Linked DNA regions of Homo sapiens. Each later gene encodes a partner of the first gene's protein in a complex. Each region holds a gene or a part of one and is shown in the gene's direction. Other genes may lie near its edges.

The links. The genes of interacting proteins can lie anywhere in the genome.
Region 2: the proteins of VPS72 (region 1) and RUVBL1 are in contact, whole or in part, in a cryo-EM structure (PDB 9CA9), measured with the Homo sapiens proteins. Residues at the interface, in NP_005988.1 of Homo sapiens: Ile212, His215, Arg263, Thr264, Phe265, Ile266, Thr267, Phe268, Ser269, Asp271, Phe274, Trp277, Phe278, Gln280, Gly281, Arg282, Pro283, Pro284, Lys285, Val286, Pro287, Arg289, Glu290, Ala299, Leu300, Tyr301, Arg302, Pro309; in NP_003698.1 of Homo sapiens: Thr136, Leu138, Pro140, Glu142, Met147, Tyr150, Gly151, Lys152, Thr153, Ile154, Ser155, His156, Val157, Asp173, Pro174, Phe177, Glu178, Gln181, Ala187, Gly188, Arg205, Thr208, Tyr209, Ala210, Thr211, Glu212, Phe213.

Annotation. Positions count from the first base shown.
Region 1 is NC_000001.11:151,180,188-151,187,208, reverse strand, and holds part of VPS72 (vacuolar protein sorting-associated protein 72 homolog), read left to right. Parts: intron 1-1,258; coding exon 1,259-1,411; intron 1,412-1,588; coding exon 1,589-1,703; intron 1,704-2,715; coding exon 2,716-2,892; intron 2,893-7,021. UniProt on the Homo sapiens protein: Deposition-and-exchange histone chaperone specific for H2AZ1, specifically chaperones H2AZ1 and deposits it into nucleosomes.
Region 2 is NC_000003.12:128,120,802-128,128,636, reverse strand, and holds the start of RUVBL1 (ruvB-like 1), read left to right. Parts: upstream 1-4,824; 5' UTR 4,825-4,912; coding exon 4,913-5,053; intron 5,054-7,835. UniProt on the Homo sapiens protein: Possesses single-stranded DNA-stimulated ATPase and ATP-dependent DNA helicase (3' to 5') activity; hexamerization is thought to be critical for ATP hydrolysis and adjacent subunits in the ring-like structure contribute to the ATPase activity.

The DNA of each region.
Region 1 (7,021 bases):
CTTTATAATATGGCTGCCATTCTAGCCCTAACCAGTTCACCTGAGGTCTAGGCTGTACTTCACGTTCTCTACTCCAGGCCATCTAACTGCCCCCAGAGCTTTCTGAAATACCCATTGTACATACCATTACCCCTCCCCTAAATCTTCAGTGGCCCTCCATTATCCATAGTAGCAGTACTCAGCTGTTTTTCTGTCCCAACACGCCTGAGGAATGACACATATTTCTCTCAGTAACTTTAGTTTACCTCAACAATGATTATCAATGGTAGGGAAAATAAGGAGATGGAGGGGATTGAGAATCACTGGCCTGCAGGTTAAAAGCGTGTTTATTAGTGTGACATTTAAGTTTCTCCATAAATGGAATGCAACCTTCTTTTCAAATCATACAGTCCTACAGTGCAATCAGTGTTGGAAGGAGGCAGTGCTGGAGCCAAATGCAGTTGGCTAACAAGGTTTCTTGACAGAGAAAAGTTTTACTTAGATCTAAATCCTTATTCCATAAACATGCTATACACATTACCATTTCTGTGCCTTTGTTTCTGCTATTTCATCTGCCCATGATTCCTTCCTCCCTCTTGGCTGTCTAAATACTAACAGTGTTTTCAATCATAGTTTAAGTCCTCTTCATCCTTTTTTTTTTTTTTCTTTTTGAGACTGTGTCTCGCCCTGTCGCCCAGGCTGGAGTGCAGTGGCACTATCTCAGCTCACTGCAACCTATGCCTCCTGGGTTCAAGCAGTTCTCCTGCCTCAACCTCCCAAGTAGCTGGGACTACAGGTGTGCGTCACCATGCCCAGCTAATTTTTGTATTTTTAGTAGAGACAGAGTTTCACCATGTTGGCCAGGCTGGTCTCGAACTCCTGGCCTCAAGTGATCTGCCCACCTCGGCCTCCCAAAGTGCTGGGATTACAGGCGTGAGCCACCAAGCCTGTTCGAGATCCACATCTCAAAAAAAAAAAAGTAAGATTATGTCCTCCCCTTTACTGTAAGCCCCTGAAGGTAGAGACCAAACCATATCCTTTTGTTCCCCAGTACTTAACAGTGTGTTGCAGGTAAAGGGCTATCAATTAATGTTGGAAGGAGGTGGTACTGGAGCCAAAGGCCATTAGCTAGAAAGTTTTCTTGCCTGAGGAAAATGAAGGGCTGGATTAGGAAGGAGAGTAGGGCAGCCCTTATCAAGAAAGTCGAGAGATTCTGTTCCTCCTGAAGGGGCATTAAGGCTTCCATTGCCAGCCAACCCTTATCTCCCTGTGTCCTTAGGAATCCGGAGATGATGAGTATCAAGGGGACCAGTCAGACACAGAGGACGAAGTGGACTCTGACTTTGACATTGATGAAGGGGATGAACCATCCAGTGATGGAGAAGCAGAAGAGCCAAGAAGGAAGCGCCGAGTAGTCACCAAGGCCTATAAGGTACAGGGGGAGTCCTAGTTGTCTTGGATTTCCTCAATTCCTATTCTCTCTTTCATCAGGTCCCAGTACTCCCTATGCCACTTCCATTTCTGGCAATGCTAGTTTTCTCTCATTGAGATCCTCATATTTCTCCTGACTTCTTCTGTTCCCCAGTATCTGATTCCAATCTGTCCTCAGGAACCTCTCAAGAGCTTAAGGCCTCGAAAGGTCAACACCCCGGCTGGTAGCTCTCAGAAGGCGCGAGAAGAGAAGGCACTACTGCCATTAGAACTACAAGATGACGGCTCTGACAGTGAGTAGGGATGTTAGGGTCAATTGGCAAAATTGGAATATAATAATAAAGTATCATATCAGTGTTAAATTTACTGATGTTGCTGGGTGCGGTGGCTCACTCCTAGAATCCCAGCACTTTGGGAGGCCTAGGCGGGTAGATCACCTGAGGTCAGGAGTTCGATACCAGCCTGGCCAACATGGTGAAATTCCGTCTCTACTAAAAATACAAAAATTAACCAGGTGTGGTGGTGGGCCCCTGTAATCCCAGCTACTTGGGAGGCTGAGGCAGGAGAATTGCTTGAACCTGGGAGGTGGAGGTTACACCATTGCACTCCAGCCTGGGCAACAAGAGCAAAACTCTGTCACCAGAAAAAAGTAATAAAAAGAAGAAAAAATTTACTGATGTTGATAACTTACTATGGGTAGGAAAATCCTCATTCTTAGGAAATACACACTGAAATATTTAGGGATAAAGGCCATGATGTGTACAACTTTAGTTACCTAATTTAGATCATTCAGAAAAAAACCACACATAACAAAATGCAAAAGGGCCAAAATATTACCAATAGGTGATGGGGTAAAAGATACATGAGTATTCCTTGTACTATTCTTGCAACTTCGTAGGTTTGAAATTATTTCAGGCCAGGCACGGTTGCTCATGCCTGTAATCCCAGCATTTTGGGAGGCCGAGGCAGGCAGATCACGAGGTCAGTAGTTCAAGACCATCCTGGCTAACATGATGAAACCCCATCTCTACTAAAAATACAAAAAATTAGCTGGATGTGGTGGCATGCACCTGTACTCCCAGCTACTCGGGAGTCTGAGGCAGGAGAATTGTTTGAACCCAGGAAGCAGAGGTTGGAGTGAGCCGAGATCGTGCCACTGTACTCCAGCCTGGGCGACAGAGCGAGATTCCATCTCAAAAAAAAAAAAAGAAAAAAAAATTATTTCCAAGTACAACATTTCAAAATAAATAAATAAAATATGTGGACATGAATTCAAAGATTTCTTCTTATCTCACTCTCTTCCAGGTCGGAAGTCTATGCGTCAGTCTACAGCTGAGCATACACGACAAACGTTCCTTCGGGTACAGGAGAGGCAGGGCCAGTCAAGACGGCGAAAGGGGCCCCACTGTGAGCGGCCACTAACCCAGGAGGAACTGCTCCGGGAGGCCAAGATCACAGAAGAGCTTAATTTACGGTCACTGGGTAAGTCTGTGGTTTCAGAAAAAGTGAGTAGAGGGGCTGAGGGGCATGAGAAAAACCATGAGACCTGGAGGACCAAAGAACTGGAGAGATGGAAATTTGGGATGATGGAATCAGAAGGAAGAAATGGCGGAGAGTAGGTAATTAGGTGCAAGAGTCTAGGCAGTTATGAGCACTCTGAAGAACAAGCTAAGGTACTTTGGTGTAAAATAAGAGTTGTATAGAACTGAGGTCAAATCCTCGTTCTGCTATTCATTTGCTTTAAGTCTGTAGGTAAATTACTTATTCACATTTTGCTTTTCTTGTTTATAAAATGGGGTATATACCTAATGACTCAGGAAATTTAGGCAGGAGGATCACTTGAGGCCAGGAGTTCATAACCAGCCTGGACAACATAGTGAAACCCCATCTCTTAAAAAAAAAAAAAGCAGGGGGTGATAATGTTGACTTTAATGATAATCATGAGAACGTGAAGTCAGCAGATTAGTCCTTCATGAGATAAATTGCTTTAAAAATCTCTTCATTTTATGGTATTGCTTTAAAAATCTCTTCAGTTTGGGCCAAGCGCAGTGGCTCATACCTGTAATCCCGGCACTTTGGGAGGCCAAGGTGGGTGGATCACTTGCAGTTGGGAGTTCCAGACCAGCCTGGCCAACATGGTGAAACCCTGTCTCTACCAAAAATACAAAAATTAGCTGGGCATGGTGGCGCATGTCTGTAATCCCAGGTACTTGGGAGGCTGAGGCAAGAGAATCATTTGAACCTGGGAGGTGGAAGTTGCAATGAGCCGAGATCACACCACTGCACTCCAGCCAGGGCTACAGAGCGATTGGTTTGGACCACTGTAAGGAGAGTGACTCCCAGGTTTTCCTTTCTTTTTTTTTTTTTTTTTTTTTTTGAGACAGAGTCTTACTCTGTCGCCCAGGCTGGAGTGCAGTGGTATGATCTCGGCTCACTGCAAGCTCCGCCTCCTGAGCTGGAGATTCTCTTGCCTCAGCCTCCCAAGTAGCTGGGATTACAGGTGCCCGCCACCATGCCCAGCTAATTTTTTTGTATTTTTAGTTGAGATGGGGTTTCACCATGTTGGCCAGGCTGGTCTTGAACTCCTGACCTCAGGTGATCCACCCGCCTCACCCTCCCAAAGTGCTGGGATTACAGGCTTGGGCCACCCCGCGGCAATTCCCAGGTTTTCAACATCAGTAACTGGCTTAGGAGACCCTGAAGGAGGAGCAAGTTCAGTGGGGAAAAAACAAATTTATTTTTGAACATGTTGAATTTAAGGAGTTTGTGAGCAATTCATGCAGTGATGAGAGGTCAGTTAAATATGCAAATCTGGTGTTCCAATAAGAGATCTGGGCTGAAAATACAAATTTGGAAGTCTTTAGAATATGGGTGGTAATTGACAATATTGGAGTGCATCTGAGCATGTAGGGAGAAAGCTCAGAGTGAGAAAACAGAGGCCTGATAGAGTCCTGCAGACACTAAAATGTGATAGTTTCATACAAGAGGAGGAGCTTTGAAAAGAGCCTGGAAGTGACCAACGAGTTGGAGAAACCCAGGAGAGTTTGTGTTAAAAATGCCAGGAAAGAGAATGTCTCAAGAGAGTAATTGCTGCTGAGACGATGATTAGTAGAACTGAGAAGTGCCCATTGGTTTTGGTGAGATAGAGGTCAGACATTACCTTAGCACTTTTTGGGGACCAAGTCGAATCAAAGTATATTGGGGAGCAAAACTTTTCAAGCTTGGCCATGAAGGGTAGAAGAGGGAATGGAAGCTACAGAGGGGTGTGAGATTAAGGTAAAGTTGTTTTTATTTTATTCGAAGATATTAGAAATTATGTCTTTCATGAGAAAGAACTGAGTTTAAAGAAAGAGAAGAAAAAACGGTTATTAATAGTGTAGGTTTTTGGAGATGGGAGGCAAGGCTGGGAACCAGAGCAGCATGGTGGAGGAATTGGCTTCAGATGGGGGAAGGGAGAAAGAAAGTGTGGTGGCCGGGCGCCGTGGCTCACACCTGTAATCCCAGCACTTTGGAAGGCTGCGGCGGGTGGATCATCTGAGGTCAGGAGTTCGAGACCAGCCTGACCAACATGGAGAAACCCTGTCTCTACTAAAAATACAAAATATTAGCTGAGTGTGGTGGCACATGCCTGTAATCCCAGCTACTTGGGAGGCTGAGGCAGGAGAATCACTTGAACCCGGGAGGCGGGGGTTGCGGTGAGCCGAGATCGTGCCATTGCACTCCAGCCTGGGTAACAAGAGTGAAACTCTGTCTCAAAAAAAAAGAAAGAAAGTGTGGCTTAGCTGAGTGCAGTGGCTCATGCCTGTAATCCCAGCACTTTGGGAGGCCAAGGAAGGAGGATCGCTTGAGCCCAGGAGTTCAAGACCAGCCTGGGCAACATAGTGAGACCCTGTCTCTGTTTAAAAATGTGGCTTACAGTTGTAGGTTTGTAATCCAGAGGGAGGGCATGGCGGAGGTTCTCACCTGATGTCTTTTTCATTATGCAGCACCATCTGTCAAACATTAAGGATACAGCTGGAAGCTTGAGGAGACTGAGGAGCATTTAAATAGTTATTGATGTGGGATATTGAGCAGTATTGAGGGACCTGCTGAAGGCTAGGACCATGAATTTATGGTGGTTCCAGTCTGTGCTGTTATTTTTCTCCAGTAGCACTCAGCAGTCCAGATCAGGGCAAGGGAATTATTGACAGGAGAGTGACTGAAGTGATTGAAATGATACAGTGAGCAACCTAAGCATGATTTAAAAAGGAAAATGTGACTGGGCGCGGTGGCTCACATCTGTAATCCCAGCACTTTGGGAGGCCGAGGCAGGCGGATCACAAGGTAAGGAGTTCGAGACCAGCCTGGCCAACATGGTGAAACCCCGTCTCTACTAAACATACAAAAAATTAGCCAGGCATGGTGGTGCGTGCCTGTAGTCCTGGCTACTCGGGGGGCTGAGAATCACTGAGGAGAATCACTTGAACCCGGGAGGCGGAGGTTGCAGTGAGTGGAGATCGTGTCGCTACACTCCAGCCTGGGCAACAGAGTGAGACTCAAAAAAAAAAAAAAAGTAAAGTGACATGGAAAAGAAGGTTGTTAGAGATGAGGTGATAAACTGTGGCCATGCAGTGTTGAAGGGGCTACCCATGTGCACTTCGAAGTCACCAGGGTGACCCTAAGATGATGGGAATTGGGGTAGAGACGAAGAGTGGAAACCACTGCCAAAGTCTTCAGTGAATGAAGGAGTGACCATGACTAGGAAGGAGAGAAGTTAATCTAGACTCTTGGCACAGGTCTCAAAAGAGAAGGGAGTTTGCTGGTAGGCAGAAAAGCAGTGCTCTGAAAGCTACAGGGTGGGGCCCAGTAGGACATAGGTATATCCTGTAGGGATGTAAGAGAATGAGCAACCTCCACCAGAGGTCTGCAGAGAGGAGTGGTGGCCTCAGTGAATGACCAGGTTTCTGTTAAGGCAAGTCATGGAAGGAATGCTGAGTGAGGAGCTTGAGGATATAGATGAGTTGGCAGATTACAGAGCACGAGTTCCAGAGGGTGTAGGCAAGTGTTTGAAAGTAGAGGGGTTGGGCCAGGCGTGGTGGCTCACGCCTGTAATCCCAGCACTTTGGGAGGCTGAGGTGGGCGGATCACGAGGTCAGGAGTTCCAGACCATCCTGGTCAACATGGTGAAACCCCGTCTCTACTAAAAATACAAATATTAGCTGGGCATGGTGGCACGTGCCTATAGTCCCTGCTACTCAGGAGGCTGAGGCAGGAGAATTGCTTGAACCTGGGAGGGGGAGGTTGCAGGGAGCCGAGATTGTGCCACTGTACTCCAACCTGGCGACAGAGCAAGACTCTGTCTCAAAAAAGAAAAAGAAAGTAAAGGGGTTGAGGCGTTGGAAGACTGGCTCAAAGGAGAGAAAGCAGTATTATCAAACAGTTCAAGTGCAAGAGAGGTTCAATCATTGGAAGGGTTTCCAGAGTACTCTTTTTTTTTTTTTGAGACGGAGTCTTGCTCTGTCACCCAGGCTGGAGTGCGATGGCACAATCTCAGCTCACTGCAACCTCCGCCTCCCAGGTTCAAGTGATTGTCCTGCCTCAGCCTCCCGAGTAGCTGAGATTACAGGTGCAA
Region 2 (7,835 bases), on another chromosome or scaffold:
CCTGGGATATGAGTAGAAATGATGGTGCAACTTCAATATCAAGGTTAAAGGGAAGAAGTATGTCCTCTTCTTCCCCTTTTTTCCTTCTAGTTGGTGCAAATTCAGCCCTTTTGGGAGGAGTTTGAGCAGCTATCTTGGACCACACGATAGACAATGTGTGTGGGGAGTGGCAGAGCCACATCATAGAAGGACCATAGGCCCTTACTGATTGTAAAGCCAGCCCACCTCCTGGCATGCCTGCTTGGACTTTCTGTGAGATAAAGTGACTTCTCTCTTGTTTGATCCACTGTTATTTTAGATCTCTCTGTTACTGCAGCTGAACTAATCTTTTAACTAATGTAACATTTACTGCTGGGTGCTATGGCTAATGCCTGTAATCCCAGCATTTTGGGAGGTCAAGGCAGGAGGATTGCTTGAGTTCAGGAATTCAAGACCAGCTTAGCCAACACAGCAAGACCCCTGTCTTTACAAAAAAATAGAAAAAATTAGCTGGGTGTGGTGGCGCATGCCCAGCTACTCGGGAGGCTGAGATGGGAGGATCACTTGAAGCCCCCCAAAAAACTAACACAACGTTTATGTATTTATGTATGTATGTATGTATGTATGTATGTATGTATGTATGTATGTATTTATTATTTTTGAGACAGGGTCTCACTCTGTCGCCCAGGCTGGAGTGCAGTGGCGCAATCTCGGCTCACTGCAACCTCTGCCTTCTGGGTTCAAGCAATTCTTCTGCCTCAGCCTCCCGAGTAGCTGGGACTACAGGTGTGTGCTGCCATGCCTGGCTAATTTTTGTATTTTTAGTAGAGATGGGGTTTCACCATGTTGGCCAGGCTGGTCTCGAACTCCTGACCTCAAGTGATCTGCCCACCTCGGCCTCCCAAAGTGTTGGGATTACAGGCGTGAGCCACTGCACCTGGCCAAATAACAACATTTAATCATTACTTGGGTTGCTCCAGTTGAGGCTGGAGACCATGACTGTGCAGTGGTTACAGGGCACCACTGGGTAGTTGCATCCTGCCACACACAGTAGCCCTCAGGAGGCAGTGAAGAAGGCAGAGGGAGGCTTGACCTGGGCTTGTGGGTTCAAAGTTCAGGTGTGATAGAAGTCAAGGTAAGGAGGGAGCAGAAGGGTCAGGAAACAAGTGATTGAGATAATCAAGCTTGGGCTGGAGAAAGAGAGGTCAAAGGCCTGGAGGTGAAAGAGCAAAGGTCGTGGGAGTAAGGGAATGAGAGGGTCGTGGGAGTGAGGGAATGAGAGCTGGCAGGTCTAGGGCTGTCACAGCACAATTCTGGAATGTAGTAGTCCACACAATTACTTACATATGTGTCACTACATTGATATGGATTTTCAGTACCCACAGATAGAAATCTAACTCAAACATCTTAAGCCCCAAAGTAAATGCCATGTTACACTGCAAGTAAGGCGAGGATGATGCAGGGATATAAAGGATTTCATCGGGAATCTCTTTCTGTCAGCTTTCCTTTCCTCTGTCTTGGCTTCATTCTCAGGTAGAGTCTCCCCATGAAGTAACAAAGAAGACCAGCCTGCAGATCCATTACCTACATTTTCTCTCCTGATATGTCCAGTAAATTGCCAGGACTGACTGTCATTGAACTAGCTGCTCACATTTCTGAGCCAATTACAGTGTCTGAGAGGATGGGATACTGATAGGTCAGGCCAGGGCCACGTGTTTACCACTGAAACAAACATGGGGTGTGGGGTCAGTTCGCCCAAACTACGCAGACTCAAAGTGGGAGAACGGTCATTTCCTGAAGGAAAACGAGAGTGGTGGTGCGCAGAAGTGGGATGGACGCTGGTCAGGAATAACCCTGTCCACTGCAGCAGGCCTCACTTGCTGTTTATTGGACTTGTGTAGCTTGGATACTGGCCTGCCACATTGTTTTCTGTTGAAATGAAAGAAATTGTCTGACTTTGCAGCCAGGTCCAGCATCTTTACACACTGGATCTGTGTCAGGCATTTGCTCAATTTGTGACCTTGGACAAACCCTGTCCCTTCCTGGGGCCTCAGTTCCGTCACATGTAAAATGAGAATGCTAGGCCAGATCAATGACCTTTTTTTTTTTTTTTGAGATGAGTCTTGCTCTGTTGCCCAGGTTGGAGTGCAATGGCACGATCTCGGCTCACTGCAACCTCCACCTCCTGAGTTCAAGCGATTCTCGTGCCTCAGCCTCCTGAGTAGCTGGGGTTACAGGCGCCTGCCATCACGCCCAGGTAATTTTTGTATTTTTAGTAGAGATGGGGTTTTGCCATATTGGCCGGGCTGGTTTCGAACTCCTGACCTCAGGTGATCCACCTGCCTCGGCCTCCCAGAGTGCTGGGATTACAGGCGTGTACCACCGCCCCTGGCCCATCAGTGATGTTTGAACTGTTATTTAGCACACACACACACACACACACACACACACACACAAAGGAACAACTCTGGTGGAAGTGGGGGCATGGAGCTGGTATCCTACACTCTCAGCATTCCCTGTCCCCACCCGTACTGGCCACAAAAGGATTCCACAACTGCTGGGAATGTGGTTTGAAAACCACTAGACCAAGTAATCCAGGGGATATTCCTCTGTGCTCTAAAATCCTGATTCTCCCTTTCTCTTTTTGGACTAGAAGGAAATCCTTCTTTCTGTGCCAAAAGATACAAAGACTAGGGCTGAAATAATAAGTGTAAAAAAAGTCTTTTTCCTTAATTGGACAATACACAAAGAAGTCAGTCCCATAGAATGCCTCACTTTGACTACTAGTTGGTGGAAAAGTTTCCTTCTCCATATAGAGAAAGGAATTGCTTCTTTTCTAAGAGTAATGACCAGGAACAAGTCAATGAGGGGCTAAGCAACTTTGTGGGGTGCTGTCTCTAGTGCTGATGAACCACATGCCCTAGTAACAACCTCAGCCTTCCAAGGCCTGGCCTCTGTTCTTTTAGGCCCTGAAAATGCCAAAAGATTCCATTCACTGATGGAAATCATTACCAAGTCCTATAAAAGCCAACGTGTAAAATACATGCAGCAAAACTGATGAATTCAAGTGTATGTGTTTGTGTGTGGTCTAGAACCTTAATTGAATTCATGAGAAGCCTTAATTGTGAGCTGTGTTGTAGGCTGTGTGCCAGGCACTTAGGTTAAAATGGTAAACAATCAAATGTGGTCTACACCCTCAAAAGGCCTGCAGTTTACTGGGAGAGAAAAACATTGACCCAGTAATTATGCAAATCATTAGAAACCTAGATTCAAAAGAAAAGAAAAAAGTATATAGAAACCTAGATTCAAATGTTAGAATCAAGATGTACAAGGAGGTGTGAGAGGCCGGGCGCGGTGGCTCACGCTTGTAATCCCAGCACTTTGGGAGGCCGAGGCGGGCGGATCACGAGGTCAGGAGATTGAGACCATTCTGGCTAACACGGTGAAACCCCGTCTCTACTAAAAATACAAAAAAATTAGCCGGGCGTGATGGTGGGCGCCTGTAGTCCCAGCTACTCGGGAGGCTGAGGCAGGAGAATGGCGTGAACCCGGGAGGCGGAGCTTGCAGTGAGCCGAGATTGCGCCACTGCACTCCCGCCTGGGCCACAAAGCAAGACTCCGTCTCAAAAAAAAAAAAAAAAAAAAAAAAAAAGGCGGTGTGAGACTGTGGAACTACTGTAATTGGATTTGATTTCAGGTCTGTCTCAATTCTAACATAAACTCTCCTGCACTCTGGGCAAGTCCTTCCCTTCCTCTGGATGTTAGTATCCTCTTCTGTAAAAATGGTGTCATACCATTTGCTTCTGAGGAAATCTCTCCTATTTGTTGGAATTCAGCCAAGGCAACATCACCTTCATGATGCCTTCCCTGGCTCTCCAGGCTGTTCCGGGGGCTTCTGCTCTGGTCTTCTCGCCACCTGGGTGTACCTGTCTCAGCACATCTCACGTTGCAAGTTTTCTAAGCAAGAAGTAAACGCATCAAGACTTTTATCCCTGTATCCCCAGTGCATTGTGGTGTCTGGCTCGTGTTTGTTGAACGGATGGATGGATGGATGGCAAGTACAATTGTGGTGCAGGTTGTGCTAATATCATTATGAAACCTGAAGGGACAATTTGCTGGCTGATTGTCTCAGCTGGAGTCATGGGACGTGATGAGCATTATTATATAGGTTTTGAAGCCTGAAGATTTCTAGTTCTGATTATTTGTGATGCTTTCTTGGGCGGATGGGCCTCTTTCCGCTTGTTTGTAGCTGCATGCGTAATTACACTACCTTACAGGGCTGTGGAATTTTGAAAACTGCAAAATGTTATTTACAGTCAACTGAACTCAGCAGGAACCTTATCTCTCGGTGGAGGATGGAGGATAGAAGCAGGGGAAGACAATTCCACGGAAACGGTGGTGGGTTGAGCTGGGCCTTTCCAGGGAGATGCAAAGGTATGGGAGTCAGAAAACATTGGTTAGTAACCAATCCCAGTTTAAGCTCTGAACCTCAGTTCTTCTGTTTCCAAAACGGAAATAATAACTTGAGATTTGCGTAAGAGTATGACGTTCAAATGTGCTAATGGATAGGACGGAAGGATTAGGAGTGGTACCCGGGGGCCACTGCCTCGTGCAACGCCCCAGCCCTAGATCAAATCCGGGGCGTGGTCCCACTGTGCTCCCGACCCCAGCCTCGGCAGGAAGCGCCGGCTACGGGGGAAGCCAACCCGGAGACACAGACGGAAGTGGGTGACCGGAGCTCTAGCAGCAGCCGCGATGGGCGCAGCCGTGAGCCTATGGAGAGCGGAGGTGTTCCCGCTTCCACCAATGGAAAGCCGGTCTAGGCGGGCCTTTGCAAATTGCCCTAGTAACGGCCGCATGGTAACTCAGGCGCCGGGCGCACTGTCCTAGCTGCTGGTTTTCCACGCTGGTTTTAGCTCCCGGCGTCTGCAAAATGAAGATTGAGGAGGTGAAGAGCACTACGAAGACGCAGCGCATCGCCTCCCACAGCCACGTGAAAGGGCTGGGGCTGGACGAGAGCGGCTTGGCCAAGCAGGCGGCCTCAGGGCTTGTGGGCCAGGAGAACGCGCGAGAGGTGTGGCCAGTGGACCAGGGAGTTGGGGGCTGCAAGCAGGGCTGCTGCGGCGAGAGAGCTGCTGAAGTCGGTGGCTCGGGGCGGGATGCGCGCGCCAGGGGTCTCCCGCCATTATTTCCTCAGGGAAGTGAAAATGGGCCAGGGGCTCGGGGAGGGGCGCCGCCCTGGAGCTGGGTGAGGGGCCGCCCCAGGATACCTAGTGACGATCCACTGGGGGCAGTTGACGGTTTGCCAACTCATGGACAAGTGCTGATATAAACCCACACAACCCCGTCCCCTTAATTCGTACCAGGCTCTATTCGCGACACTGGGATACAGCGGGAATTAAGATAGGAGCTTACATTTTAGTGTAGTGAGAGACGATAAACGTGTACACCAATAAATAAAAATAATTATCTTATCTTGGTGGGGTTAGTTACTGCAGGGCTTTGTCGGCCACGGTCAGGAAATTGGATTTTATTGTGAATGCAGTGGCAGGCTATGGGACGGTTTAAAGTAGGGAATTGACTAAACTTTAAAAGCTCATTTTGGTTCCCAGGATCCGGGAACTGAGGGAGAGAAGTGGGAATTATGGAGAAGAGCAATCTGGTTTATCCACCCCTCCAAGCATCCTTTTTGACCATTCCAATTAAATCTCCTTTTTCTAAGTGCTGGTGATGCCAAGTACTTTCACATACATATTATTTTTTGGCAGGTGAAAATATTGAGTTGGGGAGAGGGCACTTCACGTATATGCTTGACACTCGTTTTAGTAACGGTAAACCTGGGGTTTGCACCCACGTGTATTTCTGACTCCCAAATCAGTGCTCTATGATGATACAGCCACCCTCTCTGCCTGCTGTTCTCTAAGGTCACAGCCATGCCCCTTGGCCTTTGGAGAGCCTTAGCTTCTACAAAAATCTTCACTTAATATAAAGTTAAGCTACTGCCTCTTAGCCTGATTTTTCTAAATGGAAAGGCCTCAAAGAAAAGCCTCAGGTTTCCATTTTGAGCATCATCTTTCCAAAAAGGAAGTGTTTGACCCTGGCTTACTAAGCAGCTAGTACTGCAAGTAGCTAACATTGGTTGAGTGCTTTCCATGTGCCAAGCACTGTGCTAAGTAGCTATATGTCCACTGCCTTGTCATATCCAACGTATTAGTTGTCCCTTCCCCGCTTTAGTATGACAGTTTTCAGACACAAAAAAAGTTGAAAGACTTGTAAATACTTGTGTGCCTAAATTCTATAATTAACATTTTACTGTGCTGCTTTATCATATATCTTTTCATCTGTCCCTCTCCCAATCCACTTTTACATTTCAAGGTGAATTGCAGGCATCACTACACTTTACCCCTACACCCTTTAACCTGTGTGCCATTGACTAGTATGAACTCTGTTCAAGTGAGGAAATTCTGGTTCATAGAGGTCAAATAAGTAGGTCCAAGGTTACTCATCTGGTAAGTGCGAGAGCCAGTATTTTAACTCAAGTCTATGTATTTAAACCCAGAGTGCATGCTCTATGCCTAAGTGCATGCTCTATGCCTAAGAGTGATGCTGTATGCCTAAGACCCACCTCAGCTACCAGGTTCTTGTGTGACTCTGGTCACATCAGTAACCTCCCTGAAAAATGAGAGTTAGACTAGGTGATCTTTTAAAGACCCTTCCAATTCTTTTTAAATGTTAGAATTCAAGCTTATCTCACCTGAGAGTAGTTGGAGTGGAAATTGAGGGAGAATGGATGGAAGAGGTCCTGGTCTGTAAATAAACGCACATCTCCAAGGTTTGTAAAGTCTCTTCTACCTTGGGTTTCCCAAAGAGCTTCAGTGCTGGGGATTATGATATGACAGGGTTGTGTGGAAAGACCATAGTAGTTTTTTTTTTTTTTTTTTTTTTTTGAGACGAAGTTTTGCTCTTGTTGCCCAGGCTGGAGTGCAATGGCGCGATCTCGGCTCACTGCAACCTCTGCCTCCTGGGTTCAAGCGATTCTCCTGCCTCAGCCTCGTGAGTAGCTGGGATTACAGGCGCCTACCACCACGCTCGGCTAATTTTTGTATATTTAGTAGAGACAGGGTTTCACCATGTTGACCAGGCTGGTCTTGAACTCCTGACCTCAGGTGATCACCTGCCTCGGCCTCCCGAAGTGCTGGGATTACAGGCATGAGCCAACGCGCCTGGCTAGGTTTTTTATCTATTTAGAAATATAGCATCTGGGCCGGGCGTAGTGGCTCACACCTGTAATCCCAGCACTTTGGGAGGCCAAGGCAAGTGGATCACCTGAGGTCAGGAGTTTGAGACCAGCCTGGCCAACATGACGAAACCCTGTCTCTACTAAAAATACAAAAATTAGCCGGGTGTGGTGGTATGCGCCTGTAGTCTCAGTTATTCGTGAGGCTGAGGCAGGAGAATCACTTGAACCTGGGAGGTGGAGGTTGCAGTGAGCTGAGATCGCGCCATTGCGCTCCAGCCCGGGTGACAGCGAGACTCCATCTGAAAGAGAAAAGAAAAGTAGCATCTGAAGAATATCTTCTAGGTTCTATTAAGGGCAGTGTGCTTTGGTAACTGAAGTGGAAATGGGATGGATATAGCATACCCACACACATTGCTTACATCATTTTTTTTTTTTTTGAGAGGGAGTCTCGCTCTGTCGCCCAGGCTGGAGTGCAGTGGCGCCATCTCGGTTCACTGCAAGCTCCGCCTCCTGGGTTCACGCCATTCTTCTGCCTCAGCCTCCCGAGTAGCAGGTGGATTACATGGTCGGGAGATTGAGACCATCCCGGCTAACATGGTGAAACCCCTTCTCTACT